6 linked regions of the Homo sapiens genome follow. The protein of the gene in region 5 purifies or fractionates together with the protein of the main gene of each other region. This does not show direct contact. Each region holds a gene or a part of one and is shown on either strand. Other genes may lie near its edges. The genes, in order: KIF11, WDR62, ASPM, AKAP8L, KATNAL2 and CEP97.

What was found.
Region 1: the proteins of KATNAL2 (region 5) and KIF11 purify together in Homo sapiens (tandem affinity purification; one large-scale study listed by IntAct). This does not show direct contact.
Region 2: the proteins of KATNAL2 (region 5) and WDR62 purify together in Homo sapiens (tandem affinity purification; one large-scale study listed by IntAct). This does not show direct contact.
Region 3: the proteins of KATNAL2 (region 5) and ASPM purify together in Homo sapiens (tandem affinity purification; one large-scale study listed by IntAct). This does not show direct contact.
Region 4: the proteins of KATNAL2 (region 5) and AKAP8L fractionate together in Homo sapiens (co-fractionation; one large-scale study listed by BioGRID). This does not show direct contact.
Region 6: the proteins of KATNAL2 (region 5) and CEP97 purify together in Homo sapiens (tandem affinity purification; one large-scale study listed by IntAct). This does not show direct contact.

Annotation. Positions count from the first base shown.
Region 1 is NC_000010.11:92,634,046-92,638,890, reverse strand, and holds part of KIF11 (kinesin-like protein KIF11), read right to left. Parts: intron 1,708-4,845; coding exon 1,582-1,707; intron 1,505-1,581; coding exon 1,346-1,504; intron 1-1,345. UniProt on the Homo sapiens protein: Motor protein required for establishing a bipolar spindle and thus contributing to chromosome congression during mitosis. Required in non-mitotic cells for transport of secretory proteins from the Golgi complex to the cell surface.
Region 2 is NC_000019.10:36,085,137-36,089,396, forward strand, and holds part of WDR62 (WD repeat-containing protein 62), read left to right. Parts: intron 1-1,550; coding exon 1,551-1,676; intron 1,677-3,901; coding exon 3,902-3,969; intron 3,970-4,048; coding exon 4,049-4,170; intron 4,171-4,260. UniProt on the Homo sapiens protein: Required for cerebral cortical development. Plays a role in neuronal proliferation and migration.
Region 3 is NC_000001.11:197,082,845-197,088,232, reverse strand, and holds the end of ASPM (abnormal spindle-like microcephaly-associated protein), read left to right. Parts: intron 1-1,260; coding exon 1,261-1,430; intron 1,431-3,806; coding exon 3,807-3,909; 3' UTR 3,910-4,106; downstream 4,107-5,388. UniProt on the Homo sapiens protein: Involved in mitotic spindle regulation and coordination of mitotic processes.
Region 4 is NC_000019.10:15,401,160-15,406,004, reverse strand, and holds part of AKAP8L (A-kinase anchor protein 8-like), read left to right. Parts: intron 1-1,962; coding exon 1,963-1,995; intron 1,996-2,289; coding exon 2,290-2,530; intron 2,531-4,401; coding exon 4,402-4,845. UniProt on the Homo sapiens protein: Could play a role in constitutive transport element (CTE)-mediated gene expression by association with DHX9. Increases CTE-dependent nuclear unspliced mRNA export.
Region 5 is NC_000018.10:46,920,132-46,924,976, forward strand, and holds part of KATNAL2 (katanin p60 ATPase-containing subunit A-like 2), read left to right. Parts: exon of another isoform or gene 1-14; intron 15-4,845.
Region 6 is NC_000003.12:101,754,793-101,759,637, forward strand, and holds part of CEP97 (centrosomal protein of 97 kDa), read left to right. Parts: intron 1-637; coding exon 638-802; intron 803-2,270; coding exon 2,271-2,404; intron 2,405-2,841; coding exon 2,842-3,631; intron 3,632-4,845. UniProt on the Homo sapiens protein: Acts as a key negative regulator of ciliogenesis in collaboration with CCP110 by capping the mother centriole thereby preventing cilia formation. Required for recruitment of CCP110 to the centrosome.

The sequences.
Region 1 (4,845 bases), on a different chromosome or scaffold from region 5:
TCTTCAGTCTGCTGGTTGGCCAGTATCTCTGAATAACACATCAGTTGACAATACATATCTAACATTCTGATTATGAATAAAGTCTGTCAGTATTTTTACTAGTCTCAAAGGTATTATCAGATTAATAATTTGAATGCTAATGCAGGTATTATATTTATCTATATGTAAATGTGTTCAAAGTTTTACATAATTATTTTAGTAGTGCTCATTTCAAGTTCTGGAAAACCTAAGAAATAGCTCACATACTGAACTTGCTTCCTTAAAGCCAGGAAAGCCAAACCATTCATGCTAAGATACTTTTCAGATCAGATTTTTTTGTATTGTTTTTTTAAAGAGCTGTCTAACAATTTTAAGCATTTCAAAACAGCAAATTTATAAAAAGGGGATCAGCCTTAGAATATACACCTAAAAAGTTCTCAACGGGTTTAAGGGAAATACCCTATGTAGATGTATGAGAAAATGCTGCAGTTTTAAGTTGCCAAAAAACACACAAAAGAGCCACTCAAACATGGATGCTTTTCAGGTAGTATGATCACTACCACCTTCTGCAAGATGATCTACATACTATTAGATGCTCACAGGGTCTCAGTTTCCTCATTAAAAATCTGACTAGTAATAGAATTTATATCTATATTGATGGGAGGAATAAACACAGTGAATTGCTCAATAAATGTTAACTATTATAAGAGTTCTGTCATATTATAATAAGCTCATTTAATAAAACTTTAGACAGTCATTATTAAAGTCTTAAGAATACCAGAAGCTGTTTTTCAGATATCTGATATTTACAGATTATGGTTTGAAGGCTTGGTTTTGGTTTAAAGCCTCATATAATGAGGAACAGTTTACAGGGAAGATAAATCATGAATTACATTTATAATCAATAAGAATTAAAAGTTGTATCGATTTACTATGTTTTAAATGTCTATCAGTGAGACAGAAATAAGAGAAAGTAGGACTTGGTTTATGAAAGACAACTATCCATGCCATCCTAGAAACAACTTAGCAGGTTTTAATGTAGATACATTTTCACTTTAAATGTTATAACCATTCTTCTCTAAAGGTATGTTTTTCCAGATTCATCTTTCATCTTGATGTGAGAAAAGGACTGTTTTGTCATATTGTGGTTCTGCATGGGGTTCTAGATGTAGCAAAACTTCAAATATTAAGAGAAGTATTCTCAATTGTTCTACAATAATTACTGTTATAAGCAACAGTGGCTATGGTATTTTCAGGTTTCAGCTTTTACAGTATTCAGATTGTGTAACATAGATTAATTATCAAGTCATATCAAATCATCCTAAAACTCTCTTTCTGTACTCCCCAAGTCCGCTAAACAACATACCTGGGAATGGGTCTGCTTTATTGTCTTCAGGTCTTCAGTTAGGTTTCCACATTGCTTTTGTGACTCAACCAAGGAACAAATGGTATTTTCTTGTAGTTCATGTAGATTGTTACACAGTATACTGAGAAAGCCATCTAGTTCCTTTTTTTGATCTTCTATCTTTGAAGAAACAAAAATGAGTTTCCTTCTTAAACAACACATCAATTTTGAGATATTAAGAACATAGCATTTGTTACCTTATCGGCCACTGTCAATGAAGTCTTGAAAATATGCTTTAGTTGACTATTGATTTTCAGTATAGACACCACAGTTGGGGATAAAATCATTTCCAGTGAACTTAGAAGATCAGTCTTGAGTACATTCTGGTTTCAGAAATAAACAAATAGGTCTTTAAAAAGAATATTTCCACTTCTGTAAACCTTTCTAAATGATATCTTAAATACTTTGGTAGCTAAACATTCACATTAAAATTTACATTTCCATTCTCCATTCTTTTTTTTTTTTTTTTTTTTTGAGACGGAGTCTCATTCTGTCACCCAGGTTGGAGTACAGTGGCAACATCTTGGCTCACTGCAACCTCTGCCTCCTGGGTTCAAGTGATTCTCCTGCCTCAGCCTCCGGAGTAGCTGGGATTATAGGTGTGAGCCACCACACCCAGCTAATTTTTGTATTTTTAGTAGAGATGGGGTTTCGCCATGTTGGCCAGGCTGGTCTGGAACTCCTGACCTCAGGTGATCCGCCCCCCGTGGCCTCCCAAAGTGCTGAGATTACAGGCGTGAGCCACCGCGCCCGGCCCCATTCTCCATTTTTTATACTCTACATAGATAAATCAATACAATAATACAATAATTTATTATATTACAATAAATATAATAATTTCTCTTTTTTCAAGCCCAGTGAAAACACAGAATTTCTTTTTTTCTTTTTTTGAGATATAGTTTCACTCTCGTGGCCCAGGCTGGAGTGCAATGGCGTGATCTTGGCTCACTGCAACCTCCGCCTCCTGGGTTCAAGCGATTCACCTGCCTCAGCCTCCCAAGTAGCTGGGATTACAGGCACCTGCTACCACGCCTAGCTAATGTTTGTATTTCAGTAAAGACAGGGTTTCACCATGTTGGCCAGGCTGGTCTCGAACTCCTGACCTCAAGTGATCCACCCACCTTGGCCTCCCAAAGTGCTGAGATGAGCCACCGCACCCAGCCAGAACTATTTAATAGTTTAATGAAATAGAAGTCAGAAGAATTCAAAAGAGGAAAATGACAGTTAATAAGATTTCAGCACTCCAAACAAAATAAATTTTTAAAAACCTACAGGTATATTTTAAGAAAATAAATTTCAAACAAGTTTAGGTTACCAGTCAAAAAGGCTGAGACCAAGTAGTCATCAAGATTAGCCCTTGGGCTGGAAGTACTTAACTTTGAAGATCTGAGATGACTTACATCCTATTGTATCAGAAGAACTTGTGAAAGATGTTGTTCTTGTCAAGAAATAGGGAAATTAAGAATGTAGTATAGATTGGAAATATTTATAAAAAGAAAAAAAATCCTGATCTAATCTCCTTTTGGTAGGATAGGGCTGAGGAAGTATAACAGAAATACATTAGTAAATACTTATAGGTCTACTGACATTCTTTTGGAAAGAAGAGCTAGCATACCAATTTCAACTAATTTTGTGAGAGCAACATGCCTCTTTTCTTTTAATTCAAGCAAAAATTGTAACTTGGTAAGTAGAAATGTATCAATTCAGGCATAGCTTATTTTATTGTGCTTCACCTTACTATGTGTCACAGATACCAAATTTTTACAAATTGAAGGTTTGTGGCAACCCTACCTTGAGCACGTCTATCAGTGACTTTTTTCAAATATCATGTGCTCACTTTCTGTCTCTGCATCACATGTTGGTAACTACTACAGTATTTCTAACTTTTTCATTATACACTGTGATCAATGATCTTTGATGTTACTATTGTAATTGTCTTGGGGTACCATAAACTGTACCCCTATAAGACAGCAAATGTAACTGATAAACGTTGTGTTCTGATTGTCCCACCAGGCGTGTGCTGGAATTACAGGTGTGAGCCACTGCGCCTGGTCAACATAACCTTTATATGCACCGGGAAAGCAAAAAATTCATGACTTGCTTTATTGTAATATTCACTTTATTGCAGTGGTCTGGAAGCAAACCTGCAATATCTCTGAAGTATGCCTATATATATACAGACCACCATTTAATGAATGAATCAATATTTGAAAAGTTAGTACTGACAGGATATCTTTTAATTTTGTCAAATTTGGGTGATTGAGAAAACCTATCAAATAATGTCATCTAAGCACTGAATTGAGGCAGAGGGTCAGCTAACATTTGTAGTATTTACTTGGAAAATGTTTAATAAATATTGTTAAGCTGAAAAAGGGAGGCAAAGACTCTGCACAAAGAAAACAAATAAATTATATGGCTAAGAACTTCCTAGACCAACCATACAATTATAAAATAAAGACTATATATAAATCAAGTATGAAGGAGGTAATATTAAGTGCAATTAGATGAGTGACTTCCATAGAACTCTGGAGAAAAGATTTATAGTTATGGCCCAGAAGGGGCCACACAGATCTAACCCTAAGAAGTGATATGTGTCCCCAGAATTCTAAGATATTTTTCTTGCACCATTATTACTATCATATATTACTGTAGTTTTAAAATCAGCTACCCAATATCCCCTTCTGGTTGGGTCCAGGACCCCTGGGGAAAGAGTGACTTGCCAATTTCTGGGCCAACTAACAAGTCCCTTGATATCATGTGGTGCTAAACTTGCCCTTTAGTCATTAGAAGCCTCACTAATAACTGCTACTCCTAATGTTACAAGACATGAGTGAAAAAGGTTTCAAAAGTTAGTTCCATACATTTGAAAATAATCTTTCTGGGAGAGAATAAACAGTGGAGAGATCTGTCTTTAAAAATATAAACGTACTCTCGGCCGGGCACGGTGGCTCACGCCTGTAATCCCAGCGCTTTGGGAGGCCGAGGTGGGTGGATTGCTTGAGGTTAGGAGCTTGAGACCAGCCTGACCAACATGGTAAAACACCATCTCTACTAAAAAAAAATACGAAAATTAGCCAGGCGTGGTGGCACATGCCTATAATTCCATCTACCCGGGAGGCTGAGGCAAGAGAACTGCTTGAACCCAGGAGGCAGAGGTTGCAGTGAGCCGAGAAAAGGAGAGGCTGAAAAAAATAAATAAATACAAATAAAGAAAAGGAGAGGCTGGCTGGGCACGGTGGCTCATGCCTGTAATCCCAGCACTTTGGGAGGCCGAGGCGGGTGGATCACAAGGTCAGGAGATCAAGACCATCCTGGCTAACACGGTGAAACCCCATCTCTACTAAAAATACAAAAAATTAGCCGGGTGTGGTGGTGGGCGCCTGTAGTCCCAGCTACTCGGGAGGCTAAGGCAGGAGAATGGCATGAACCCGGGAGGTAGAGCTTGCAGTGAGCCGAGATCA
Region 2 (4,260 bases), on a different chromosome or scaffold from region 5:
AGATGGAGTCTTGCTGTCACCCAGGCTAGAGGGGAGTGGCACCATCTCTGCTGACTGCAGCCTCCACCTCTCTGGTTCAAGTGATTCTCGTGCCTCAGTCTCCCATGTAGCTGGGATTACAGGTGCCTGCTGCCATGCCTGGCCAATTTTTGTATTTTTAGTAGAGATGGGGTTTCACCATGTTGGCCAGGTTGGTCTCAAACTCCTGACCTCAGGTGATCCGCCCGCCTTGGCCTCCCAAAGCGCTGGGATTAGGGCATGAGCCACCACACCTGACCTTTTTTTTTTTTTTTTTTTTTTTGAGACAAGAGTCTCACTCTGTCGCCCTGGCCGGAGGGCAATGACGCGATCTCAGTTCACTGCAACTTCCGCCTCCCAGGTTGAAGCGATTCCCCTGCGTTCAAGCGATTCTCCTGCCTCAGCCTCTCGAGAGTAGCTGGGATTACAGGCACGCCCCCACCACACCCGGCTAATTTTTGTATTTTTAGTACAGACGGGGTTTCACCATGTTAGCCTAGGCTGAAGGCTAGGACCATAGTAGGGTCTCCAGACCTCATGGTCCTCTTCATTAAAACAACAGAAAATTCCTTCTGGGCCATCAGATGAGATCATGAGATAGGAGAAGATTTCCAAGTGAAGATTTCGTTTGTTTCAAGACAGAGTCTTGCTCTGTCACCCAGATGATATATGGATGATATATGGTAGCATTTTGTGTCCTTTTTCTTGTTTATTTTTAGCATAGAAGGTATTGCACGATGCTGGTCTCAAACTCCTGACGTCAGGTGATCCACCCGCCTTGGCCTCCCAAAATGCTGGGATTACAAGCGTGAACCACCATGCCCGGCTCCTCAAGATGTTTTCTAGGCTGGGCACGGTGGCTCATGCCTGTAATCCCAGCACTTTGGGAGTTACAGAGTTGGTGGAGTTATATCCTGATGTGATTTTCCCCATGTTCTTCTTTCGTTCTCTCATCCCCCATGCTGTGTGCCCCACCAACTTGTCTTGAAACATATCTTCACTCGGTTCGCCTCTCCTGATCTCCCCTCTGCCTCAGGTCATGTTATTAGGCCTCAGACATAGCAAGTGACCAGAGTAGGGAAGGCTGGTGGCAGATGGGAGTCTGGCCACAGGCAGTCAATAGGACCTGAACAAGGCCCAGGTAGCCAGACCTCAGAGGGTGAGAGGACACTGGTTTTGGAAGAGGCTGAGAGGTTGCCAGGGCTTTACCCAGCACAGACCCAGCAGGCAAGAGCGCTGGGCTCTGCTGGGGCGTCTGCTGTGGATGTCCCTGGAGGAGCGTCCATGCGCCCATCGAGACTCATCCTCCCTGAGCTGGTGGTGAGGAGGTGAAATGCCAGGGTGTGGGGGCTCTGGGAAAGACCACACAGAGCTAAGGGAGTGGCCCTTGCCAGGCTTGGGCCAAGTTGGCTACAGTTGAAGAACCAAAGACCCCTTCTCCGAGGACTGGGCAGCTTGGTCACACTGCCCTTCTGGGAGGCCAGGGCACCCACGCAGCCTTCAGGAACCAGTCTCATTCTCTCCTCTCACAGGGCTGACCTTGCTGGCCTCAGCCAGTCGGGACCGGCTGATCCATGTGCTGAACGTGGAGAAGAACTACAACCTGGAGCAGACGCTGGATGACCACTCCTCCTCCATCACCGCCATCAAGTTCGCTGGTGAGCCCCTTTCTTCCCGCTCCCTGCGCCTTGCTAGCTACCCTGCTAAAAAAGGATTCATTCTTTCAACTCTCCTGTAAAATATATATCCAAACAAGTGAATACAGTATCTGTGTACAGTATACAGAATAATGACTGGGGCCGGGTGTAATGGCTCACACCTGTAATCCCAACACTTTGGGAGGCCAAGGAGGGTGGATCACCTGAGGTCAGGAGTTCGGGACCTTCCTAGACAACATGGTGAAACCCCGTCTCTACTAAAAATACAAAAATTTGCTGGGCGGGGTGTTGTTTCTGTAATCCCAGCTACTCAGGAGGCCGAGGTGGGAGAATTGCTTGAACCTGGGAGGTGGAGGCTGCACTCCAGCCTAGGCAACAGAGTGAGACCCTGTCTCAAAAAAAAAAGAATAATGGCCAGGTACCATGGCTCACACCTGTAATCTCAGCACTTTGGGAGGCCAAGGCAGGTAGATCATGAGGTCAGGAGTTCGAGACCAGTCTGGCCAACATAGTGAAACCCCATCTCTACTAAAAATACAAAAAAATTAGCCAGGCATGGTGGTGTGCACCTGTAATCCCAGCTACTCGGGAGGCTGAGGCAGGAGAATTGTGTGAACCCGGGAGGCGGAGGTTGCAGTGAGCCAAGATTGCGCCAGTGACTCCACTCCAGCTTGGGTGACAATGCGAGACTTTGTCTCAAAAAAAAAAAAAAGAAGAATATAGGCCGGGCGTGGTGGCTCATGCTTGTCATCCCAGCACTTTGGGAGGCTGAGGCAGGCAGATCACCTGAAGCTAGGAGTTTAAGACCAGCCTGGCCAACATAGTGAAACCCCGTCTCTACTAAAAATTCAAAAAAAGTAACCGGGCATGGTGGTGCACACCTGTAATCCCAGCTACTTGGGAGGCTGAGGCAGGAGAATAGCTTGAATCCAGGAGGCCAAGGTTGCAGTGAGCCAAAATTGTTTCACTGCACTCCAGTCTGGGTAACAAGAGCAAAACTCCATCTCAAAAAAAATAAAAATAAAAAATAAGCTGGGCGTGGTGGCCGAAGTGAGTATCCACAGTTCTTAGGAGCAAGGTTTGAACTAGGACGTTGTTGATAGCAGAGACTGTTCTAATTGCTCATGGTCGTAATATTGTTAAATACGGTACTTGGATTCACCACGTGCAGGTTAAGAAGCAGAACATTACCAGAGGCTTGCAGGCCTTCTCTGGGTCCCTCCCAGGTTACCCTTCCTCCCTTATATGGGGCTCACTCCCTTCTGTGAGCCAATGACTCCTCCTTGAGCAACATCTAATACTTGTATGTCAGGCCTGGACCCTCTCAAATGTCCTGTCATGAAGGAGCATGTGTGATGTGCCCAGACTCAGAGTTTTATATTTGTTCTGTCATTTCATCCTCACCAAACTGTTATTCTGTAAAGAAATGAGACGGCCGGGGGCATCTCACGCCATTGCACTCCAGCCTGGGCAACAAGAGCGAAACTCTGTCTCAAAAAAAAAGAAATGAGAATAATAAAAGCAAGAATGTTTCTAATGCTTACCATGTGGCAGTCCCTGTTCCAAGGGCTTCACATCACTCTCCAGAGAAGGAACTGTCACCATGCCCATTGTACGGACCGGAAGTTGAGGCTCAAAGGGGAGGCCCAGGTTCAGAGCAGTGTTTAACAGCTTTGACCTTGGCACCAGAGAATGCCTGGGTTCAGTCCTGCCCCTGTCCTCTCTGTGTGCCTTGGGACAAGGACTCTGTGAACCTCTGTGTTCATGCTTGTCCAGTGGGATGGGTGGTGAGCATTCAGGAAGACCCGCTACATGCATGGGGCCTGGCCCAAGGCTCATGTGGATCTTGCAGTTGATCCTGATGGCACGAGCCTCCCAGCCTGTCTCCACTGGTCGCTGCTGCAGTCCTGCCTCTACTCCGCTACTCAAGTCACCTATCTCAATCCCAGACTGGAGAGGGTGTCCCTTCTTTGTCCCCAGCCTTTGTTTCTCTATATGCCCTTGCTCTGCAGAGCCTGCCTTGGCCACAGCTCCACCTGTGCCCCCTCACACGTACAGCTCATACCTTACAGAGTCCCACCCAGACCCAGCACCCACCTCACCACCTTTAGGAAGCCTTGATCCCAGCACAGTTGATTGATGGCTCTTGCAGTGGAGTTCCCCAGCTAGGGTCCCCTGCCCATGTGGCCCAGCCCTGCCTAACACACAGCGTCCTCCTCCCCTAGGCAACAGAGACATCCAGATGATCAGCTGTGGGGCTGACAAGAGCATCTACTTTCGCAGTGCCCAGCAGGTAGGGTGGCATGGCCTCCTTGGGGGCTGGGGTGGGGGGTTGTCGGGGCATTCTCTGAAGGTCCTGCCGGCCCTGCCAGGGTTCGGATGGACTACACTTTGTCCGTACCCACCACGTAGCAGAGAAAACCACCTTGTATGACATGGACATTGACATCACCCAGAAGTACGTGGCCGTGGCCTGCCAGGACCGCAATGTGAGGTAAGGGGTGGCCCTGGACCCTTAGCTGGCCTGGTCTGCCTTGTCCTAGGCTGTCTGCTTTCCTCCCTCTGTTCCTCTGGTCCCCAAGAA
Region 3 (5,388 bases), on a different chromosome or scaffold from region 5:
CTTTAAGATTATTTTTCTGTGGTCTTAAGTCTATGACTTTTATAGTTTTCCTTTAGTAATTATCACTCTAAAATAGGGTTTTATGTGTGTTCAAACCTGCTTTTTGCACGGATAAAATGAATTCAGGATGTATCTATGAGTTGTTTCTTTCTGACTATTAAAGAAACTGAATTCTGAAAATAAATTTATTACAGCCATATAAGTAACCATTTCCCATTTACTAGAGAGAAAAGTATCCTAGCAAGATAGAAAACCAGATAGGTATAACTTCTTATCCTCCTGTTGTAACCATAATTGTATTTCAAGCTTTTCTACGATGAGACCTCTGAGTCATTCTTTTTAAGTGTCATAATTAACATGGGGAAACCATAGGCCATAATTGGACTGTGGCCTTTATCCTGGTAAGTGGGAACCGCTGCAGGGTAAAGCAAGGGAATAATATTTTCCAATTTAAATTTTAACAACACTCTGGCTTCTGATTGAAGAATGAATTTGGGAGAGCATGTGTGGATATAGTGAGACCATCAAAGAAGGTGGCAAGTGTTGATATGTAGTGATCTAGGCAAGAGATTGTGCTTGTCTTAGGATTGTGTCGCTGAGAGGTAAGTAGAAGACTTTGGAAACTGCAGAGGTAAACTTTTCAAGACTTGGTAACTGGATATGATAGGTGTGTTGACTATAATTGCTATGTTGACTATAATAATTCCTTCTTATATTCAGTGTGGAGTTAAGTATGCAACTTTTGAATATTTATCTTCCTTATAATTGCCTTGCAAATTAGCTCGTAATTTAAATCAATCTACCTGCCAAACTTGGTGAGGTTTCTTTGATTATTCAAAGCTTAAAAGTTTACTGCAGGCTGGGCACGGTGGCTCACGCCTGTAATCCCAGCACTTTGGGAGGCTGAGGTAGGCAGATCACGAGGTCAGGAGATTGAGACCATCCTGGCTCACACGGTGAAACTCCATCTCTACTAAAAATACAAAAAAAATTAGCCGGGTGTGGTGGCGGGTGCCTGTAATCCCAGCTACTTGGGAGACTGAGGCAGGAGAATGGCGTGAACCCGGGAGGCAGAGATTGCATTGAGCTAAGATCGCACCACTGCACTTCAGCCTGGGCGACAGAGCAAGAGAGACCATCTCAAAAAAGAAAAAAAAAAGGTTTACTGCATAGTTTTTATTATATTTGATTTTGCTAGTCTAAAAGAGATAAAATTTTAATTCTTATTACTTTTTAGTAACTGTGCATTTTATTTTGTAGGATGTACGAAGTAGGTCCAAAGTTGTTGACCGTATTTACAGTCTCTACAAACTTACAGCTCATAAACATAAAATGAATACTGAAAGAATACTTTACAAGCAAAAGAAGAATTCTTCTATAAGCATTCCTTTTATCCCAGAAACACCTGTAAGGACCAGAATAGTTTCAAGGTAAGCAATTAAATATAGTCCATAAATTTGTGTCACTGTTCATTCATTCATTTAACAAATATTTATTGAGCACTTACCATAAACAAGATGTGCTTTTCAGTGGAGAAACAACATATGAATAAGAATGGAATGTTTGGTAAATTTAAAAGAAGCAGTCTTGGTAAATAAAGAAATAACATTATACTGTAGCTTTGGACATTTAATAGTTATTCAACAAACTTCTTATATTAAATAGTTAAGAGCTAAGGCTAAGAAGCTTGTTATAAGTTTTGTCATTTTATTTTATTTATTTTATTTTGCATGAAAGACAAACTACACTGTTTAAGAAGTGCCAAAAGTCCTTCTTAGCCAAAATATCAACCTCCAGTCCTCCCATAATCACCCTGATTCTTGAAATTTCTCCTTCTGGAAATTTAGATTGACATTTTCTGATTTTATTGGCAAAAAGATTTAATTTATTTTGGTGAACCGTCATGGCATTTAATTAGTGTTTTTACTCCCTTCCTTCTTTCTCCCTCCTCCTTTTTTTCTTCCCCCTTCTCCCTCTCTCCCTCCCTTCCTTCCTTCTTTCCTTCTTGAGACTTAGCAATTCTCTATACTAGGTACAAATCCTACATTATTGACAACACACTATTTCTTGACCTGAGTGGTTACACAGCCATTAGCTTTATAATTATACTCATAATTATAAACTGTATAATGTAGTTATAAATTGGTTTTATGCATGCATATTTCACAGCATAATGTAAAGTTCATTTGCTTGAAATATATTAATGGGACCATTTCTACATGTTTTTTAAGGACTTGGTAGAATTTAATATTCATTATGTTTTAAAAGCTCATACTAACATATGAATGGATTCTCTTAAAATTTTGATGTAGGTCAGGCTTTTGAGGTAAAATTTACTGACAGTATAAATGCATCCTTTAAATGTATGCAATTCAATTCGTTTTGACAAATGTATACAGTTAGGAAACTACCACCACTGAGATACAAAATATTTCTGTAACACAAAGTTTCCTTATGCCCCTTTGTTGTCAGTTCTCTTTCTTTATTCCCTGGATTTTGGGAACTACTGATCTGATTTTTGTACCTTTAGTTTTGCCATTTCTATACTGTCACATATATGGAATCATATAGTAGATAGCTTTTTGTGACTGGATTCTTTTCCTTAGCATAATGCTTTTGAAATTCGTTCATGTTTATGCATGGATTTGAATTTCATTCCTTTCTATCACTTAGTACTATTCCATTGTATGGTCGTACCACACTTTGTTCACTCACCAATTGATATATCTTTGGATTTTTAGCAGGACAAAATAAGATGATGGAAATGCATATAGTAGGGAATTATGTGAGAAGATGCATGAACTCCCTCGGTTTGATACTATTTTCTCAATAAGTTTGAGATTATAAACTCAACAACTCAGAAGCAGCTCAGAGGGTATGGAGGGGAAGTTTGAAAAGAGGAAAGGACCAAGATAGTCATCTTGGAGAGAAAGGGAGCATGCTGGCAATTTCAAATGCTCATTTTAGATTTGTAATTATTGGCAAAAAATAAAATCAGCTTGGTTGTGTAAACATTTTTAGTAATATGCAGCTGTATAGGAATGGAGAAGGCAGATATTTTGACTCAATTTGAAATCCAAGTAGAATTCTTCAGACTAGTTTGGTAGGAGAGAGAGACAACAGTTAATGGCATTTGCAAAGGTTTTGATAATACTGATGCACCTGAGCTAGATACACAGGAAAGTAAGGACAGCATTCTGGTGGATGTTGGGTATGTGTTGAGGCCAAATGAAGTGGAGATCTCAGTGGGGTAGAAGAACTGGTTCAATGACTGTGTTAGAGCATATGACATGGATGAATCAGAAATGGTGGATGGAGAATGGAAGTCTCAAGATTTCAGTGGTCGCACACTTTCTGATGATGACAAAGTCTAGTATGTGATCATATTAAAAAGGATTGGTTGAGGTAGAATTGAAGGAAAGTGGGGCAAAAACGGACTAGGTTGTTGGCTTTTTGGCCACATAGATGTTGCTGTTGCTGAGAACGGTGACAGTAGGTAAGAGGAGAACAAGAACCAGGTTTACAAGGAATAAGACACTGAGAGTTTGGCTGATGACCAAAAGGCAGTGGTCAAGCTAAATAGCATAAGCTTCAAAGAAGCCAGCATTATTTTTTAGAAAGGATGGAGAGAAATAGTCTGGAACTAGTGATGGGCAATAATATGAAGTTCTCCCACCTCTTTGAGCAGTTTGTAAGGGAAATGATGTGTTCAGGAGTAGCTACAATTTAGTTAAGAGAAAAAAGGTGAAGGTAACTCTAAAGAGAAGAACTTTATTAATGCCAGACTTTTTTTTTTTTTTTAACAGACTTAAGCCAGATTGGGTTTTGAGAAGAGATAACATGGAAGAAATCACAAATCCCCTGCAAGCTATTCAAATGGTGATGGATACGCTTGGCATTCCTTATTAGTAAATGTAAACATTTTCAGTATGTATAGTGTAAAGAAATATTAAAGCCAATCATGAGTACGTAAAGTGATTTTTGCTCTCCGTGTACAACTTTTAAAATCTGACTTTGTTTTAAAAAAACATAAACTGTTCATTACATTCTTCATTTTTATCATTTATAGTTTTATGCATGTAATAAACTAATATGTCATAAGATGATTATATTATTCCTGTCTATTATCTTAAAGTATTATAGTAGTTTCAATGTAATCTTATTACTAAAAGGAAATAATAGCTGATTACACCTTTTTTATAGGTAAGTTGAGGAATTTTCATAAAACAAATGTTAGAAATTGAAGTTCTGTCTACTCACTAAGAAGTGAGACTAGGATAAAATAATCTCACAAATTCATATCAATGGCATCCTTATCTATATCCTTGACTGGCTAAAGCATCCAGATAAGCAAGTGAGCCCTTCTAGGCTCACAAAAAGAATACACCCACCACTGTATTTACTAAAAATTCTTACCATTGAACTGATGGGGGTTATAATTTGAAGTGGAAGGAACATGCTATTGCTTATAATAGAATCTTGTTGTGTAGTTATACACCACAGACCTGAAAATGATTCAGTATTGAAATGTGATTTTTTTTCTACTCTTTGAGTCACTATTACTAGTATCTGTGGTTTCAGGGCCACAGATGTCTAATTCTTATGGCTGAAATCTGAATAGAGTCTCAAAGTCTGCCCATGGGAGTTAGAATCCCTGGGCTCATCCTTTTCTTTCATCACTTTGTTCAGTGAACTTAGGAGTATCAACTAACTTCATTATATTCCTTGGTTCTCCACATATGGTCAAAGGTATTATTTATAGAGACACTAAACTCCTTGCTTCTCAGGAGCAGTTAATAAGGAGTATCAAATGCATTTATTTTGCATAACTCTCTAAACAATTCACATAAAAAACTATCAGTGTTCTCCATACTATTAGAAATAGAGTCCTTAGCATTTTTGGATCTAATCAGATTAAACAGCCAACTCCAGAAACCCCAAAACCAGCTAAAGAAATCCATCCTTAAAACTCTGTTCCTCTAGAACAACTACTGGTACCAAAATCTGTATTAGTCAGGGCTCTCCAGAGGGAAAGAACTAATAGTATATATGTATACATGAAAGGAAATTCATTAGGGAGAATTGGCTCACGTGATCAAATGGAGAAGTCTTAGGATAAGCCGTCTGCAAGCCGGAGAAGAAAGAAGCCAGTAGTGGCTCAATTTGAATCCAACAGTCTCAAAAGCAAGGAAGCCAGCAGTTCAGCCTTGAGCCTGTGTCTAAAGGCCTGAGAGCCCCCAGCAAACCACTGGTGTGATTCCAAGAGTCCAAAGGCCAGAGAACCTGCAGTCTGATGTCCAAAGGCAGTAGGAACAGAAGAAAGCATTCAGCGTGGGAGAAAGATGGAAGCCAGAAGACTCAGCAAGCCAGTTTTTCCCACCCTCTTTC
Region 4 (4,845 bases), on a different chromosome or scaffold from region 5:
TGTAGCCTCCCAAGCAGAGCCCTGATGGATCTGCTTTTGCCTCCATATCCTATTTTCTTTTTCTTTTCTTTCTTTTTTTTTTTGAGACAGAGTCTCGCTCGGTCGCCTAGCCTGTAGTGCAGTGGTGCAATCTTGGCTCGCTGCAACCTCCACCTCCCAGGTTCAAGTGATTCTCCTGCCTCAGCCTCCCAAGCATCTGAGACCATAGACGCGCACCACCACACCTGGCTAATTTTTGTATTTTTAGTAGAGATGAGGTTTCACCATATTGGCCAGGCTGGTCTCGAACTCCTGACCTCGTAATCCACCCACCTTGGCCTCCCAAAGTTCTGGGATTACAGGCATGAGCCACCACGCCCAACTCCTATTTTCTTTAGAATAGCTAGTGCCCACTGTCCCTGGTACAAACAGTCACTTGGCCAGGTGTACAGTAGCTGCCTGGGCTACCTGTGTGTTGTTCTATTTTTTTTTTTTTGAAATGGAGTTTCACCGTGTCGCCCAGGCTGGAGTGCAGTGGCGCGATCTCACCTCACTGCAAACTCTGCCGCCTGGGTTCAAGCAACTGTGCCTCAGCCTCCTGAGTAGCTGGGACTACAGGTGTGCACCACCACGCCTGGCTAATTTTGTATTTTTGGTAGAGAAGGGGTTTCACCATGTTGGCCAGGCTGGTTTCAAACTCCTGACCTCAGGTGATCCGCCCGCCTCGACCTCCCGAAGTGCTGGGATTACAGGCGTGAGCCACTGCACCCAGCCTTGTGTGTTTTTCTTTATGTGGCTCTGCCAGCCTCTCTTGCCTCTTAGAATGGCTCCATTCTTTCCTCAGCTACCACTCCTGACTTACCCATGCTGCTCTCTGGCTGTTAGCATCTCTCTTACCAACAGGCAGATCTCCATGCCTGAGCAGTGCCTGGGACTGCAAGCCTCTGTTCCCTGTGCTCAGGGGATACATAAACAAATGGATGAGAAGCCTGTTTTGGTTTCTCCAGCCCAAGAGTTTTTGTTTTGTGAGCTCTCTTGTTAAACATAGTGGTCATCAGCAGTTCCTCAGCTTCTCTCTGATTTCTTCCCATTCTTTTTGTGCACTGGGTCGTGGAGGAACCCAAGTGCAGGACGACAGCCTGCCTGTTCTCTCTGGCTCATCTTTTCAGTTGACTTACACTCTTCCTGCTGTGGTCTGGCTTCTGCCACTTATTGCCCTGCTGTCTGTCTCACTGAGCTTCGGTCCCCTGCCCTGGGATGAGCATGTCCTCTGCGGGGCAGAGATGACATGGAATGGGAAACAACTGTTGGGTCTCACCAGAGACCCAGGGAAAGGGGTCACCTGCTCTGTGCCCTCCTTTGGGGAGGAACTGTGTGTTTGACTCAGAGTTCCCAGGGGACTTTACACTTTGTCACTTCTCAGTGGCTTTATGTTACTGAAGGAATGAGGTTTTATCATGTGTTGTGATTGAATCCAGAGCATATTAAGTTGATAATCCAGATTGTTCTCTCCACAGCTTTTCTCAAGCGAGGGGTTGCTTCTTGGGCTTCTCTCACTGATGTGTTCCAGCACAGCACAGTCAACAATTCAAGGGCTTGTTGGCCCTCCCTTTTAAGGCAGACTCTTGGGAGACTGGGGTTGGGTTTTCTGCTATAAACTGATTAGCACTTAGCTTGGGGTGTGGAGGTCACCTTCTAATTCTGGCTCTTAAAGGGAGGAGTATAGGAGCCAAGTTCCTTAGTTGAGAGTGTTGGGAACAGAAGGATCCTTAAATAACAGATGCTCAGAGCCACAGGCAGCCAGGCACCAGGGCAGCAAGTGGCCTGGGTCATTTGCGCAGTGCTCGCGAGCTCAAGGCTTCTCGGTTAGGGGAGGTGCAGCCTGCTCTGACCAGTCAGGTCCTGGGAATAATTGTCTGCGCCTGAATTATGGCCTTGTATTGTAAGCAAGTATAGATGTAACTGCCCTTTTACTTTTTGTAGGATATGGAACTTGGAACTCTGGGACAAATAGAGGCAAGTGTCATTCCTGTGATTGCTGTCCTGTCCCTTGGGGTTGTCCTGGCTGTGTTTCTCTGCCACTGCCCTGCTTGGCCAAGGTTGGGAGTGGGGAGGGGGCATGTTTCTGGGGTTACCTACTCCTTAACAGGAGGCCCTCATCAGAATGACCAGGGCCCATCTAGCTTCAGTGGCTAGGGTCTTCTCTCTCTGTGACAGAAGATACCCTTGTATCTGTGTTTGTCTCTGTCTCTGTCTGCCTCCCCTCTGCCTGCCCCCACCATCTGTCTGTCTCTGTCTCCCTCACTGCAGGCTACGAGGGCTATGGCTATGGCTATGGCTATGGCCAGGATAACACCACCAACTATGGGTATGGTATGGCCACTTCACACTCTTGGGAAATGCCTAGCTCTGACACAAATGCAAACACTAGTGCCTCGGGTAGCGCCAGTGCCGATTCCGTTTTATCCAGAATTAACCAGCGCTTAGATATGGTGCCGCATTTGGAGACAGACATGATGCAAGGAGGCGTGTACGGCTCAGGTGGAGAAAGGTGAGTGGACACCTGCCTAGGGGTTGAGACTCTGCAGGGGCGGCTCCTGCCTGCTGCCCACTGCGTTTTCCTCTCTGAGTGCCCCTCTGTGTCTGCTTCCTCCCCGCTGCTTGGTGCTGCTGTGGCTCCCAGCAGGGTCCGTTGCACTTCCCGTCTCTGACTTGTGTCTCCTCTCACCCACCCTCAACCCCTGCCGCACTGCCTGGTGGTCAGCCTTTCCCAGCTTGCGGTGAGAGGAACAAGCCCAGACTGGGCAGACTTCACTGTGCCCTCAAAAACAGAGTGTTCAGCCACCCCTCCCTCCAAGGACAGCCATTTGGAATTCTCTCGAGACTTTGCCTCCTGCGTGGTGTCAGGGCAGGACAGATGGAGTTTGGTGTGAAGGGTGGGACGAGCGTTTGGGGCTGATCACTGCGAGCTGGGCCACCCCCACGTAAGGGTCGGGGCAGGTGTGGGCATTTCCTGGTTACTCTCCTGTGCCTTACAAACATGTACCTGATGGAAGCACTCCTGTGAGGAACTGCTGCTGTCCTCATTTTGCAGGTGGGGATACAGAAGTGCAGGCAGGTCATACCCTGAAGGCACGCAGCAAGTACTTGGTGGGGCTGGGCCTCGCCTACCAGATCTGCCCTACTCCAAAGCATCATGCTGTGGGCATTTGTTATTAACTGAACTGGACTTGGCCCAGGAGTGCTTATGCCCAGTGCGAGGCTTTGGTGAGGAGCGTGGGTGTATCTCTAACATGGGATAGAGTGGAGCACCAGCTAACAGATGAGTGAGAGCCAAGAGTAAGGAGTTGCCTGGCTGAGCACTGATAGGGCCAAGGGAGGCCCCAGGGCTGTGGTGGCAGGGTGTGGAACAGGCACAAGGGGATTTGATGCCATGGGCTCTGTAACTCCTGGCCCAACAGCTGCAGCACTCAGAGCTGAGGGCTTGGCATGTGAGGCTTGGCCTTGCGTTGCTGCTATGCACCTTCTTACCACAGCCTGGAGCCTGGGATCGGGGTAAGCAGAGCAGCGGCAGCACCAACTGCTGCTCTTAGAGCTGCCGGTGCCTCTTGGTGGCCCAGGTTTAGGGAAGAGTGTGCAAGGGGAGCCCCTGTGCCTGTGAGGTGTGTGGGGTCCAGGCCTGTAGGGGTGTGGGCTGCGGGCTGCAGTCACGGTTAAAAGAGCTCTCTGCGGTGCCCTCTGTGTCCTGGGAGGAGGTCTGGCCTGCCTTCCCAGTTGCAATACAGGGTATATAGAGTTTGGTGTCTGGCTCTGGGCTCCAGGGTTGATGTAATACAGCTCTTTTTCTTGTCCCTGGGCAAGCTCTCAGTGTCTTCCCTGGGAAATACTCCCCCTTTTGTCTCAGTTGTTTTGGTAATGAGGGACTTTGCAGAGTTTGAAGGTTCCCCAGCCATGAGGGACAAGAACAGTGTTTCCCATGGGTATCATCAGCCTCACTGGCTGCGCATTCATTGTGCTGGACCTGCCTGCATCCTGCAGGGTGCTGGGGTGCTCAGCCTTGCCCTGTGAGGAGCAGCCTTGGGCGTTGCAGCTCCCACAGATGGTGTACATGTTCCCAAAGGGCTGTGGAGCAGCTCTGCCCCTTGTTGAGACTCACTGGACTAGAGCCTCCACCCCAGTTATCAGTCCTTCAGTCCTTCTTAGGGTCCCCAAGCCAGTGTGTGGCTACATTCAAGTTTGGGGCAGTGGTGCCCCTATATCAGCTGAGAGGCTGGAACTCTTTAATCGGCATTTCTGAACATTGAGCCTCCCAACCAGGGCAGGGTGGGTGCTGGACTGGGAGATTGGGGAGGGCAGGAGCAGTTGCCTGGAGGTGAGGGATCCTGAGGGGCTCCACCTGATGCTCACCCCATGCCTCTGCAGGTATGACTCTTATGAGTCCTGCGACTCGAGGGCCGTCCTGAGTGAGCGCGACCTGTACCGGTCAGGCTATGACTACAGCGAGCTTGACCCTGAGATGGAAATGGCCTATGAGGGCCAATACGATGCCTACCGCGACCAGTTCCGCATGCGTGGCAACGACACCTTCGGTCCCAGGGCACAGGGCTGGGCCCGGGATGCCCGGAGCGGCCGGCCAATGGCCTCAGGCTATGGGCGCATGTGGGAAGACCCCATGGGGGCCCGGGGCCAGTGCATGTCTGGTGCCTCTCGGCTGCCCTCCCTCTTCTCCCAGAACATCATCCCCGAGTACGGCATGTTCCAGGGCATGCGAGGTGGGGGCGCCTTCCCGGGCGGCTCCCGCTTTGGTTTCGGGTTTGGCAATGGCATGAAGCAGATGAGGCGGACCTGGAAGACCTGGACCACAGC
Region 5 (4,845 bases):
GTTGGGTAGGTTTGACTGCAAAGAGTTCTAGGTGCTGCCCTAGACTGGCCTGAGTCATTAAGGACTGTTATGTCATTCTGGCCACAGTATTAGATCACAACTGGGCATATAAATCTGATTAGTACTGAGCATTTATAGGCTTTGCCAAGTAGATCAAGTGTGGACCCGTGCCCTAAGGTAGGCTAATCAGAGGGAAGCCTAGGACATTTATTCAGTGATTAGAGATAAGACTTTCTGGCATGTGGAACACTCGCCATTTTGCTACAGTGAAGAGCCAACCTGAGAACCAACCCTTCTTGTGAGCAGAAAAATCACACACACACAAAATCTCAGCATTGACTTTGATACTCACTCTGCCTCTGTACTGGCCAGTTTTCTTGAGCCAATGCCTTTCTTGTAAGGTTTTAGATTGTTTGAGTTGAGATTTCTATTAGTTGCAATAGAAAGAATTCTGAAATAGGGTGCTACTTTGTCTCACCAGACCAGATTATTAATTTGGCATTTTTTCTAATCTATACTCCCCAATAATCATTCAATATATGTTCAAAGGAATGGCTGAGTGGTAAAGGGTAGAAAGGGCATGTTTCTCTTCACTGTTGTGATCATTTCTGCTCTGGTCTAGATTTATATATCCTCATTAAAAAGAAATCCCTGCACTTACTTGAATCCAACTTCCTTATAACATAGTAATGTGGTATACCCTTAAAGGGGAGTGGAGAAGGAGGGAGGTGCAGTAATCTTATCACTCACAAAAGGCCACATATCAAAGTACCAGTGCCAGCCACATGCTGAACTCTTCTACCAGAGGAATTCTATTAAATATATCCTTTTTCTTTATTACATTTCCAATGGTAAAATGTTTTAGTGCTCTTTATGGATTGAATCTCCAGGCAATTACCTGACTAGGCTACCGTCTTAAAATGGCTCCAAATTAGAAGATTCATTATAAGTACTGTGATTAAAGTGTCCTAAGTTTTTTTGTTTGTTTGTTTTTTGTTTCTGTTTTTGCTTTTTGGGACGGAGTCTCGCTCTGTTGCCCAGTCTGGAGTGCAGTGGCACGATCTCGGCTCACTGCAACCTCTGCCCCCCCGAATTTAAGCAATTCTCTGCCTCAGCCTCCCAAGTAGCTGGGATTACAGGCACCCGCCACCATGCCCAGCTAATTTTTGTACTTTTAGTAGAGATGGGGTTTCACCGTCTTGGTCAGGCTAGTCTTGAACTCCTGACCTCGTGATCCACCTGCCTTGGCCTCCCAAAGTGCTGGGATTACAGGCATGAGCTACTGCGCCTGGCATAAAGTGTCATAAGATTTTAATACACGAAGTCAAAAATCTCAGGAGTAGCTTTTCCATTTACTAGCTGTGTAACTTTAGCAAAGTCTCAACTTAATTTTTCTAATCTGGAAAAGAAAAATGACTACACCTATCTCAGGATGAGATACCTGATCTGATAGATCAGGTGTATGAGTGTACTCTGTAAATTTATAAAGTGAAAGATGGTAAATTTTTTGTATCTAAACAGCTAAGCTGATTTTGAATCTAAACAGCTGATAAACACATAACAAAAAAAAAAAAGCACTTCATTAAGAAACATAATTAAGAACCATATGATATATCCTAGTAATTTTAGCAAAGAGCATTCCAACCTGGTTGGACCAACCATGTAACCTTGAGTTTAGTTCCAAGCACCTGTCTTCTTAATCCTTTCACATCTGTCTCTGAACCCATTAGACTTTACTGATTTTAATATCTCTCTTTTCCTTCCCACTGATTACTTCCTCTCTCCCTATAACAGTGCTCAGGCCTCCCAGATGTTTTCCAAGCCACTTTACTTCTTTTGCTAAGCATATATCTATTTATATCACATTTCCTAACTCCTACACACTTTGCCAATACTGTCTTAGTCTTAGACTTTACCAAAACTAGTATCAAGGAAACTGAACAAGGAATTAAAAAAAAATTTTTCCTCACTTTTTTTTTTTTTTTTTGAGACAGGGTCTCACTCTGTCGCCCAGGCTAGAGTGCAGTGGCATGATCACAGCTCACTGCAACCTTCACCTCCCAGCTCAAGCAGTCTTCGTACCTCAGCCTCCCAAGTAGCTGGGACCACGGGCACACCACCACTCTCAGCTAATTTTTGTATCTTTTGTAGAGACAGGGTTTCACCATGTTGCCCAGGCTGTTTCAAACTCCTGGATTTAAATGATCCTCCCACCTTGGCCTCCCAAAGTGCTAGGATTACTGATGTGAGCCGCTGCTCCCGGCCTCAACTTTTTATTCTGAAAACCTTAATCACAAATTTGTTTCTTCTCCACTTTCACTGCATCACTTGACTAGCCTTTTAAAAAAAAAAACCAAATAATTAAAAAATAAAAAGTTGAGGCTGGGCGCGGTGGCTCACACCTATATTCCCAGCACTTCGGGAGGCTGAGGTGGGTGGATCGCCTGAGGTCGGGAGTTCGAGACTAGCCTGACCAACGTGGTGAAACCTCATGTCTATCCGCTAAAGAAATAAAATGAGCCAAGTGTGGTGGTGCATGCCTGTAATCCTAGCAACTTGGGAGGCTGAAGCAGGAGAATCGCTTGAACCCAGGAGGCAGAGGTTGCAGTGAGTGGAGATCATGCCATTGCATTCCAACCTGGGCAACAAAAGTGAAACTCCATCTCAAAAATAAATAAATAATAAAAAGTTGAAACATAAACTTCGAAAGCATAGCAGTATGGTTATCTGTATAAGATTTATAATTTAATATATAATATCATATTAATATAATATATATTTAATATATAATATTATATATGATATTGTATATATAATATAGTTAAATCCTTAGATCTGAAGTAAACACTTCAGTCCATATAGAAAAATTCTTATCAACATACAGAACTTTTTTTTTTTAGACCTTTAGTAAGATCTCAACTTATTTTTTTTTTAATTTTATTATTATTATACTTTAAGTTTTAGGGTACATGTGCACAACGTGCAGGTTTGTTACATATGTATACATGTGCCATGTTGGTGTGCTGCACCCATTAACTCGTCATTTAGCATTAGGTATATCTCCTAATGCTATCCCTCCCCCCTCCCCCCACCCCACAACAGTCCCCGTCCCCGGTGTGTGATGTTCCCCTTCCTGTGTCCATGTGTTCTCATTGTTCAATTCCCACCTGTGAGTGAGAACATGTGGTGTTTGGTTTTTTGTCCTTGCGATAGTTTGCTGAGAATGATGGTTTCCAGTTTCATCCATGTCCCTACAAAGGACATGAACTCATCATTTTTTATGGCTGCATAGTATTCCATGGTGTATATGTGCCACATTTTCTTAATCCAGTCTGTCATTGTTGGACATTTAGGTTGGTTCCAAGTCTTTGCTATTGTGAATAGTGCCTCTGTAAACATACATACATGTGCATGTGTCTTTATAGCAGCATGATTTATAATCCTTTGGGTATATACCCAGTAATGGGACGGCTGGGTCAAATGGTATTTCTAGTTCTAGATCCCTGAGGAATCGCCACACTGACTTCCACAATGGTTGAACTAGTTTACAGTCCCACCAACATTGTCAAAGTGTTCCAGCTGCTCCACATCCTCTCCAGCACCTATTGTCTCCTGACTTTTTAATGATCGACATTCTAACTGGTGGGAGATGGTATCTCATTGTGGTTTTGATTTGTATTTCTCTGATGGCCAGTGATGATGAGCATTTTTTCATGTGTCTTTTGGCTGCATAAATGTCTTCTTTTGAGACGTGTCTGTTCATATCCTTTGCCCACTTTTTGATAGGGTTGTTTGTTTTTTTCTTGTAAATTTGTTTGAGTTCATTGTAGATTCTGGATATTAGCCCTTTGTTGGATGAGTAGGTTGCAAAAATTTTCTCCCATTCTGTAGGTTGCCTGTTCACTCTGATGCTAGTTTCTTTCACTGTGCAGAAGCTCTTTAGTTTAATTAGATTCCATTTGTCAATTTTGGCTTTTGTTGCCATTGCTTTTGGTGTTTTAGACATGAAGTCCTTGCCCATGCCTATGTCCTGAATGGTATTGCCTAGGTTTTCTTCTAGGGTTTTTATGGTTTTAGGTCTAACATTTAAGTCTTTAATCCATCTTGAATTTATTTTTGTATAAGGTGTAAGGGAGGGATCCAGTTTCAGCTTTCTGCATATGGCTAGCCAGTTTTCCCAGCACCATTTATTAAATAGGGAATCCTTTCCCCATTGCTTGTTTTTGTCAGGTTTGTCAAAGATCAGATAGTTGTAGATATGCAGCATTATTTCTGAGGGCTCTGTTCTGTTACATTGGTCTATATCTCTGTTTTGGTACCAGTACCACACTGTTTTAGTTACTGTGGCCTTGTAGTATAGTTTGAAGTCAGGTAATGTGATGACTCCAGCTTTGTTCTTTTGGCTTAGGATTGATTTGACAATGCAGGCTCTTTTTTGGTTCCATATGAACTTTAAAGTAGTTTTTTTCTAATTCTGTGAAGAAAGTCATTGATAGCTTGATGGGGAAGGCATTGAATCTATAAATTACTTTGGGCAGTATGGCCATTTTCATGATATTGATTCTTCCTACCCATGAGCATGGAATGTTCTTCCATTTGTTTGTATCCTCTTGTATTTCGTTGAGCAGTGGTTTGTAGTTCTCCTTGAAGAGGTGCTTCACATCCCTTGTAAGTTGGATTCAATACCTTGTAAGGTATTTTATTCTCTTTGAAGCAATTGTGAATGGGAGTTCACTCACGATTTGGCTGTCTGTGTGTTATTGGTGTATAAGAATGCTTGCGATTTTTGTACATTGATTTTGTATCCTGAGACTTTGCTGAAGTTGCTTATCAGCTTGAGGAGAT
Region 6 (4,845 bases), on a different chromosome or scaffold from region 5:
TCTGCTCATTTTACCAACTACATCCCTGTGTCCTTTGACATATTCCTCTCCCTTTTGTATTTTCTGTAAATTGGATATGGATGTTTGTTCAGATTCAGGTTTGATTTTTTTTTTTTTTTTGAGGGGTGGACTATAAGGTTGGTGGACTATAAGGTTGACAGGTATGATTATAGCGCACTATAGCCTCACACACCTGACCTCAAGTGATCCTCCCACCCCAACTCCTGAGTAGCTGAGATTACACATGCCACCATGCCCGGCTAGTTTTTTTTTTTCTTTTAACTGTCATTATGAACTAATGGATTCAAATGCAGTTCATCTATTTAGGCATTTCAGTGTGACAGAATGAATGGGGAGAATACTCATTGCTTCCTTGAAAATGATTTAAAAATATTTGGCACCATTAGTCCAAGCTCAATGGAAGTGCCCCTAAGCAAGAAAAAGGGTTTGAAACATTATTAGAATGGTGAATATGAGTCAGAATGATAGATTTTTTAAAAAAATTGAGTGAATTTTATTTATGAAAAACATACAATGGTGCTATAAAGGTAAGTTAACAAGGAAGATCATTGTTGCCTGACAATGTGTGTTGACTATTCTCATGCCATCTCCTCTTTTTTATGTTCCCCAATTCCAGTTTGAAAGCTGAATGGCTCTATAGTCAAGGCAAGGGGAGAGCATATCGGCCTGGCCAGCACATCCAGCTTGTCCAATATCTGGCTACAGTCTGCCCCCTCACTTCTACACTAGGTCTTCAAACTGCAGAGGATGCCAAACTAGAGAAGATTTTGAGCAAACAGAGGTAAGCCCATTTATTTCTAACAACTGATGAATTCACAAGTTAAAATACCTCTGAGTCTTTGCTATGGTGATAGTAAGCCTGAGGCAAGTGCTGCGGCCCACATTTCTGGACACTCAGTCCCCTTGTCACTGCAACAGTTCCTGCAGGGAAGCTGAATCGTGCACTGCAAACAGCCAAACAATATGGTATGGAGGAATAGAGGGGTTTTTTTGTTTTAAAGACAGGGTCTTGGTCTCTTGGTCTGTGAGTACAGCAGTGCAGTCATAGGTCACTGCAGTTGCAACTACAGGTGCATGCCACCATGGTTGGCTAATTTTTTGTAGAGATGAGGTCTCACTTTGTTCCTCAGTCTGATTTTAAACTCTTGGCTTCAAGCAGTTCTCCTGCTTCGGCCTCCTAAAGTGCTAGGATAATAGGTATGAGCTACTACACCAGGAAACGGGATAGGATTTTTAAAAAATATATTTGTTCTTTTTTTTTTTTTAAGACATAATATCACTCTGTTGCCCAGGCTGGAGTGCTGTGGTGTGATCTCAGCTCATTGCAACCTCCATCTCCCAGTTCAAATGATTCTCGGGTCTAAGCCTCCTGAGTAGCTGGGATTACAGGCATGCGCCACCACACCTAGCTAATATTTTATTTTTAGTAGAGATGGGTTTTTGCCATGTTAGCCAGGCTGGTCTTGAACTCCTAACCTCAGGTGATCTGCCCGCCTTGGCCTCCCAAAGTGCTGGGATTACAGTCATGAGCTACTGCGTCTGCCACCCCTCCCCCTTTTTTCTTTTTTGAGGCAGGAGCTCACTTTGTCACCCAGGTTGGAGTGCAGTGGTGTGATCTCAGCTCCTTGCATCTTCAGTCTCCTGGGCTCAAATGATCCTCCCTCTTCAGACCCCCTTCAGTCCGTGCCTGTAGCTGGGACTACAGGCACGCACCACCAAGCCTCGGCTAATTTTTTATATTTTTTGTAGAGATGGGGTTTCATCATGTTGCTCAGGCTGATCTTGAACTCCTGAGCTCCAGCGATCCACCTGCCTTGGCCTCCCAAAGTGCTGGGATTACAGGTGCGCGACACCGTGCCCGACCTATTTGTTCTTTAATGTAGGTGTTTCTTGTGGGTTTTTGAATACTTAAGAGGTATATCTGCCTTCAAAGGGTACAGTGAAAAAAAAGAGAAAAAGTATTGCCAGAAGCATTTAATATTTACTTTCTTTATCAGAGATCCTGCCTTTAAATGTTTTTGTATGTGTGTATGTGTGCATAGTAGGGTCTGTCTTTGCAATTACAAAATAAGCTTCTTAACTTTCTTTATCCAGTGCTTTCAAATGAGGATTTATAATTTGGCATTAATTAAAAGTACCTACTTTGAGAACTTGTAAACTTCTGCCTTTTTGACATTGTTACCTAGGAAGCAGAAAATCTTTCTTTTTTTGGTTTGTGTTAAATTAGACCAGGTATTATTGATTTTTAGGTTTCACCAGAGGCAGTTGATGAACCAAAGCCAAAATGAAGAGTTGTCTCCTCTTGTTCCTGTTGAAACAAGGGCATCCCTTATTCCTGAGCATTCAAGCCCTGTTCAAGATTGCCAGATATCCCAGGAAAGTGGTAAGAAATGAATTTATCTCTGATCCCTTTTCTCCAAGTTGTTTAATTTGTCGGGTATCATAAAGCAGAAAAAGGTGCATATTTTCATAATTTTTTGTTAGTTTACTAACTTCAGTAATCATTTAGATCTTATACATATCTATGTATAAACACACCTATATATGTATGTATATTATAACTGCTATATTTCTAATTTTAAGAAACATTTCAAGGACTACTACCTTTTATATAGACCTGATGCTTTGATTATTCTTATGATTATCACAAGAATTCATTTTCTTAAAAATGTTTGGTTTGATGTTTTCGGCATATTGGAAGAAGTCACTGAGGGGATTTTTTTGCATTTTACTCTATTTCAAGGAATAGATTTCATTAAAGGGACATAACTAAAATGTAAACATTTAGTGGTTTAAATGATACTCTGTTGATTCTTCTAGAACCCGTCATTCAAGTGAATTCTTGGGTTGGGATAAACAGTAATGATGATCAGTTATTTGCGGTTAAGAATAATTTTCCAGCCTCTGTACACACTACGAGATATTCTCGAAATGATCTGCACCTGGAAGACATACAGACGGATGAGGACAAGTTAAACTGTAGTCTTCTCTCTTCAGAGTCTACTTTTATGCCAGTTGCATCAGGACTGTCTCCACTATCACCTACAGTTGAGCTGAGGCTGCAGGGCATTAACTTGGGCCTAGAAGATGATGGTGTTGCAGATGAATCTGTGAAAGGGCTGGAAAGCCAGGTGTTGGATAAGGAAGAGGAACAGCCTTTATGGGCTGCAAATGAGAATTCTGTTCAAATGATGAGAAGTGAAATCAATACAGAGGTAAATGAGAAAGCTGGACTATTACCTTGTCCTGAGCCAACAATAATCAGTGCTATCTTGAAGGATGATAACCACAGTCTTACATTTTTTCCTGAGTCAACTGAGCAGAAACAATCAGACATAAAGAAACCAGAAAATACACAACCAGAAAATAAAGAAACCATATCTCAAGCAACTTCAGAGAAACTTCCCATGATTTTAACCCAGAGATCTGTTGCTTTGGGACAAGACAAAGTTGCCCTTCAGAAATTAAATGATGCAGCCACCAAGCTTCAGGCCTGTTGGCGGGGATTTTATGCCAGGAACTACAACCCTCAAGCCAAAGATGTGCGTTACGAAATCCGGCTACGCAGAATGCAAGAGCACATTGTCTGCTTAACTGATGAAATAAGGAGGTGGGTCAGAAGTCCTTTTGATGCACTGTTTTGTTGGTTTGAGGGTGTTAGATTCTTATAGTTGATTCAGAACACTGTGCTTCTGTGATTATAACACTTTTCACACAATGTAGCCACTGTTGCTTTGGTTGTCTCCTACAGTGTACCGAAAGCATCTGGAGAGCAGACACTATCTGCTCTATCTCCTCATCTCCATCCCCAGCAAAGCACTTGATACATAGATGCAGTGTAGTAATAAATGTTCAATGAACGTGAGCTTTATAGGGATCTATAATTCTAAACATAGAAAGGTACAGAAAACATTGAAAAACCAAGTATAAAAATGAGAAGATGATGAAGTCTACATGGAATTCAGTACATGACATAAGAAATAAAGAAAATAGCAGGGATTCAGAAGGGGCTAAAATTCTATATGACTACAATAGGAATTATTCCTTAATCCCATGGCTCGTATGTTTTACTGACTGCTAGCCCAGGAAAGTTAGGATTTCATTAATATTGCAACTAGTAATATTTACTGGTATTATCAGGTAGAAGAGAAAGAGGCAGCAAAGGATACTGAGAAGGGACAGCCAGAGTGGTAGGAAAACTAGGAGAGTTCCACCTTCAACAGGAGCAAGTGTTTCAGGAGAGATGAGAGGTGCCACAGAGAGGACACAGGCATTAAACTTGGCAGTTGGAGGCTATTGGTGACTGTGTTGGTGATTCTCCAGACTATCCTCAGGTTGGATGATTTGCTAAAAGGACTCACAGAACTTGGGAAAATACTATTCTGTTCGTCATTATGGTTCATTACAGCAAAAGGATACAGATTAGAATCAGTAAAGAAAAAAGGTGCCTAGGGCAGAGTCTAGGAGACATGAGGTGCAAGCTTCCAGTTGTTCTCTTTCAGTGGAGTTGTACAGACAGGGCTTAATTTTCTCAGCAATGATGTATGATAACACATATGAAGTATTGCCAACTGACGAAAGTTACCTCATCTTTGGTGTCCAGGGTTTTTATTGTGGGCCAGTCACATAGGTATTGAGTACCCATGTAACTGATCTTAACTATTTACACCTCAGACCACATAGAGGTCACACTGATACTCCATGGCCCAGGACCCAGGACCCCAGGCGAACAAAACAGATGTTGACTAGAAATCATTGATTGCCTAAACTATCTGATGTGACCAAGACCCCAGGTGTATAAAGATATTCTTTTTCAGTCAGGAT